2 separate regions of the Homo sapiens genome follow, and region 1 is linked to region 2. Evidence: fine-mapped QTL for protein levels in blood plasma. A gene starts in region 2. The other region holds a variant in brackets. All regions are shown on one strand. Distances are between the middles of the regions.

Region 1 (2,500 bases), 320 kb after region 2:
GCTGGCTTTCATGACTTAAGGCAGGTTAAAAAAATATCACATAAAACTAAAAAAAAAATTATATACACTACACATTTTTGTTATTATTAACATTTTCATTTTACTCTTTTCAATTATATGAGATGAAAATAACCATAAATTACTTACAAGCATATAGATACCGTTTTCATAATTAAAAAGAATTCTTGAATCAGCTAAATAATTTAAACATCACTACTTATACAGGGGCAAAGAAAAATAGTGTGTGTGTGTGTGTGTGTGTGTGTGTGTGTGTGTGTGTGTACATATACACCAAGCTTTTGAATATATCCTTGTCTGGTGCATTTATATAAACAAAAATTGCATTGTCCATCAGAAATTGTGTGTGACTGTTAATTTCAAAAATACCTCTGCTTTCTTAGAGAATTTTTTTAATTTACAAAAGGGGTTTTTCTTTCATATTAATTATTTAACTTTTTATGTGCAGTCACATCATCCCCAAATTATTTTATCAAGTTTTTGATAACTGTTTTCCATATTGTACTTGATTTATATACTGGAGTTCCAACTCTGTTCAATGTCCTCTCTGTAGTCAATGTGTATTACTGTTGTGATTATGAGTATAGCGTTCCTAATTTCAGCCATTATATTGCTTCAAATTTACACACTGACAATATAAATTGAGAAAACTTTCAAATTACCATAACATTTTTCTAAGGCATCTTTGTCTTTGTGTTAACAACAAAGCTTCAACAATTTTTTTAAACAATATGCTTTTTCTAGTATTATTTTTAGTCTATTCATTCTTAATTTTTCTTCAAGTTGCTGAAAACAACTACTGTTTATTTTATACTTCACTTAATTTGGAGTCAAAACAAATTAATCAAGTTTACTAAGAGGCCTTTTGTTGTCAGGAAGGAGAAATATATATGAACATCTTTGTTTGAATAATTAATGAAAATAATGATTAATCATCTGGATCTAATCTAAAGCTGTTATGATGTCTACTGAAAATGAAAAATAAAACTATTTTCCCCTCAAGATTAGGATATTTCTTTGCTGGTAGATAGATTAAATAAAAGTATTAAAAGTGTCATCATTGATGACAAAAAAT[G/A]TATTTCTTTTGTTTTCATAAAAAATAATTGTAGAAATAAGAAAACATTTTTTAAAAATAATGCTAGTTGGGCTATAGAATAGCTACAGGGAAGATAATAAGTGGTCCAATTTTTAAATTGGTCAGACTCACCAGATAATGGTTTCATTTATCTCAATCTCATTGTGTATCCTCAGGCTTTGAAGGTTAAAATGGTAGGATGGTAATAGCTCCCCTAATTTTATTAATTGCTACAATGTCATACATAATATTTTTTAGGTTTTTAGTTTGATTTTCACCCCAATATTCCCCTGGTTAATAATATTCAGAAAGCAAGTGTTACTGCTGGACTGTCCTAAGTTTACATTCTAGCTTCGTAGGAACCACTTTGCCCTGCTCCCAGGAGAAGGGCTTGCTACTTCTATAACTCCAATTCTAGGATCATTACTCTTTAGTCATTAACTGCTAAGTTGGAACCTACCATTTACAAGTAAAAATTACACTTTATTTATACATAAAATTTCGTTCTTGGAACCACAGCTGCTTTGTCTGTAAGTGGTGGGTGAGGCCTCCAGGTTAAATGTGCTGATAAACACTTGTGAAGTAAGTCAGCCATATCATAAATGTATACAATATTAGCAACTTAGACCAGAAATGTAGGAATTATTGTGATGTTTATCTATAAATATTCATACTAAAGGAGGGCAGCCGTAGTGTTGGTAATGCAAAATTTGTCTTGAACACTGTAATACACTTGTATTAGGATTTGGTGCCCTATAATATAGCGAATGTGATCCCCATCCCCACCCTGCTTACGAAAAATGTGATTCTGGAAGTGACGGTTCCTTATTTGTATAAGGTTGCTCTCCAACAGGATTATGCCTCCTCTGGAGACCAGGAGAGTCTTCCTTTGGTCTCTAAGTAATTGTCTTTTAACTTAGCTTCAGTAGGAAAGAAGAACAAAGCTTGCCTACTTTGCACTCCTATCTTCTTTTGAGTGCCTCCCTCATTGTCCAAAGCAGTGCTTCCCAAACTTCAGTGTACATAGGAATCATCCAGAGAGCTTGTTAAAACACAGATTCCTGAGCCAGACCCCACCAGCCATTCTGACTCAGTAGGTCTTGAATGAGCCTGAGAATCTGCATTTTTATGAAGGTCTCAGGTGATGCTGAAGATGCTGGTCTGCAAATCATCCTTTCAGTTGCACTAACTTATAGTAAAAATAATAATGATAAGGTGATAAAATTAACAAAGAAGTGGAATACAGTCCTCTACCTCTGTTCCACTGGAGAAAGTTGAAATATCACCTCAACAAAATTGCAAAATTTTATTTTTTTCATCCTTTTTCATAAACGATGAGGGATTCTTTCTGGAATTGGTTGATAATGAAAACACAATTCATTTTGAATGCCTCTAGCCAACTCATGT
Region 2 (3,029 bases):
CCAAATTGCCTTGCGAAAATCATAATTACGATCTCTAGGGAAGTTGAAATAAATAAAATGTTTTTCTCCTTTGTGTTGCTCAATGTTCTTTGTTTTTAAAAGAAAATGTGTTGCTTAAACGGTGTTTCAAAATTTGTTCTGGACATAAACCCTAATTATTTCCTTTTAACATTTCCTTAAATGAATAAAAAATATTGTAAAGAACCAAAATGACACAAAACCAAAATGCCACCCAGGCTGCTCTCTTGCCGGTGATTTGTTACTGGGAAAATAGTTAAAGCCTGCTGGGGAATTATTAACTGTTTCCCCTTACAGTGTTTATCCCAGGCATTCGTTTAAGACGGGAAAGCCTTGAAGAGGGTCACTCTATTAATATGCATTAAGAAGTAAAGGACCAATTTTAATATTTCAAACAACTCCAGTGGATAACAGACCATAAACTTCCTGTTTTCACTATCAATCTCTTTTAAAATGGTGTTCTTGGCTATCCATAATCGCCCCAGGGGAGAGAAACAAGCGGAGGAAAAAAATGCAAGAGTGAGGGGAACAAATGATGGAAAATTGCTTTATTCAACTTCACCTGCCGCTCGAGAAACTCACCCTTACGAAGATTCCAGCACTTTATATGAATTACCCATTATGGTTTCCTCCCACCACATCACTGCACTATTTTAGCACTTGTTTTGCAAACCACCAACTGCGTTTACAAGTAGAAACATAATCAGGAGGCGAATGACCTTTTGTAGCATGTATCTGAAGCTGGTTTATCAGACACTTCGTCAGCCAACTGTCCAGGAGGCAAAATGACTATCTATGATGATAGATAGACAGACAGATAGATAGTTAGATTAAAAGGTGGGGAAACATCCCTTTTCCCTTTTTCCTTTCTATATAATCTGGTTTTTTCTCTTCACCCCTTTTCTCGCTTCTTCCCACCCCGTCCCCAAACCTGTTACTAGGGAAACTTGAAAAAGAATCAGATACATTAAGACTACAAAACGAAACAAAAGTTTAGACCCCGAAACCATGATTCCATTGCCAAGCACAAAGCAATGCAAGAGCCCAACGTCGGTCGCCGCACCGCGATCCTGACAAAGCCTGTATGGAGCCAGAACAAATAAGATGTTAATTGCAGCCTCGCAGAGAAAAAAATACTATTGTTCCAGCCAGAGACACTCAGCAGCTCGGTAGCTGGGATGTGCCCCCTCCGCTGCGGACTGGATCAATTCTGAATCCCGGTACTGAAATGACAGCTCTCTGGCTGCGACAGGTCTGCGCTGAAAGAAAGAGAAAGACGATCAAGTCCAGCATTCACTTCCCACCCTTCAGAGTCGCCTTCCCATCCTCCGCACCCCCCTGCCTCGCCTCCCAGTGAGTTTCTCTTACAGTTGGTCGCCGCCAGCCCCAGCGGTGGGAACTGAGGATGCAAAAACCTCCCAGACGCAGAAAATACCGCTTTCGGGACGTGCTTGGGTTTGAGTAGCCGTGACGTGCAGGCGAACCGCGGCCCTGGCTGGAGCTCCGTGGAGCCCCCCTCCCGCCAGCCTCTCCCCCGCCCTCCCGCCGGGACTCCCTCCTCTCCCACCCCGCGGCTCCCTTCGCCTTCTCTCTCACACACCCGCCCGCGCCCCCGGCAGGCAGAACTCCAGGAAGTCGCAGCGGCCGCGCCGCGCGAGCCGAGCCTCTGGCGGGCGGCGGGGCGCACCGCAGCTGTGCATAAGAAGGGCGCGCGGCACCCGGGACGCGCGCGCACACGAGCACGCGGGAGGCCGCCGCGCGGACGCGCTCCCGGGACACGCGCACCCCCCGCGCGCGCGCCCAAGGGAGAGCGAGCACTGCGCGCCGGCGCGCACACCCGAGACAGAGCTTTACTATCTCGCTCCCTCTCGCGCCTCCCTCCTCGCTGGGCATTCAAACAGCTTTCCGACATCACCAGCCAAGGATTTTTTTCCCCGCTCTCCTTAGTCGCCGTCCGTCCATCAGTACCTGCAGGGGGGAGGAGGAGGAGGGAGGAAAGCGGAAAGAGGAAAAAGCATAAGCTTGAGCCTTCCGATCCGACCACGAATACTCCTGTAATAAACCCACCGCCCCAACAAATCTGCCATAGCAGCCGCCGCCGCCGCCGGTCACTTCTCGTCTCAGCGCTTTCTTTGCTTCTTGGTTTGTTGGGGGTAGCTTTTATGAAACAAATCTTTGCTATTAAGCCACTTACATTTTGGGGGGTTCCTTAGAGTCTCCCTTGGGGGGGCTTCTCCCTCCCTTTAGCCCCCCTCGGTTTGGAGGTTGGATTCAGTTGGATACGGCGCAAGGTTCTGGGCTCCTGCTGGCTTTTTTTTCCTCTCTCTCATCGACCCCCCTTTGGTTCCCACCCCCCACCTTTTGCTTTTCGTATGTATGCATTTTTAAAAATAAATCCTGATTTTGGAAGCTGAGCCGGGGAAAATGGGCAACGGTGATTGGGACCGAAGGGGAGTCTCTCCGTCACTGTTGCTGGGACGCGTGCCTGTGCTGGTGTCTTAGAGCAAGAGCCTCCCTGAGCTTTCGGAGTGGAAGGTAAGGAAGGGGGTCCAGGGGTCACCTTTTCTCTGCCGGGGGTCGCCACCGTGGAGCTTTGGGCTTAATGTTTGAGAAGGGAGGAAAATGAAAGGAAAGGCTGTTGCTGGCGGATGGGGAGGCTGTGAGCAGATCCGACTGTCTGCATTTACTTAAACGCCGCAGTTGAAAAGTTAGAGAAGTCTGGTTTTCAAGAGATGTGCTGGGTCAGAAGGAATAAGCGGAGAGACCTAGAAAATCTGGCAGTTTTGTGTGATTGGGGTAATTTTATGAGGGGAAAATTTTAGGTTAAAAGGAAGTTAAGAGAAGGCAGTGGGTCTTCTATTGGGGGGAAAAATCTGTGGAGTGATGGCGCCGTCTATGTTCGACTAAACTAAAGTGTCACCCAGAAAATCAGTTTTGAGAATAGCTAAACTCAATGCTGGTTTGCTTCTCAGCAAGAGATAAATAAATAAATAAATAAATAAATAAATAAA

Alleles and levels. Alleles are on the strand shown, and positions count from the first base shown. The strength of an association depends on the size of the effect and on how common the allele is.
For the plasma level of the protein whose gene starts at base 1,835 in region 2, G is the high allele of the variant in region 1 and A is the other (strong association).

Evidence for each region. PIP is the chance, under the fine-mapping model, that this variant and not a neighbour inherited with it causes the effect. Protein levels are from antibody-based Olink assays in UK Biobank. Linkage for the fine-mapping came from a reference panel and not from the study's own genotypes, which makes the PIPs less certain.
Region 1: its variant is fine-mapped to the plasma level of the ADGRB3 protein (UK Biobank, PIP above 0.99).

The regions. Positions count from the first base shown.
Region 1 is chr6:68,958,631-68,961,130 of GRCh38, forward strand. All of the region lies in intron 8 of ADGRB3 (adhesion G protein-coupled receptor B3), which reads left to right. Among named protein-coding and RNA genes, the nearest start is that of ADGRB3, 320 kb to the left of the region's middle. The variant G/A (reference allele first, on the strand shown) is at 1,094.
Region 2 is chr6:68,633,448-68,636,476 of GRCh38, forward strand. ADGRB3 (adhesion G protein-coupled receptor B3) reads left to right here and starts at 1,835. Exons shown (of 32, transcript NM_001704.3): 1 at 1,835-2,553. It overlaps LOC127898563, which reads left to right and starts at 2,443. Exons shown (of 1, transcript NM_001414704.1): 1 at 2,443-2,520. The coding sequence starts at 2,443. The coding sequence ends at 2,520. It overlaps ADGRB3-DT (ADGRB3 divergent transcript), which reads right to left and starts at 877. Exons shown (of 2, transcript NR_125872.1): 1 at 738-877. RefSeq lists a silencer at 1,574-1,783.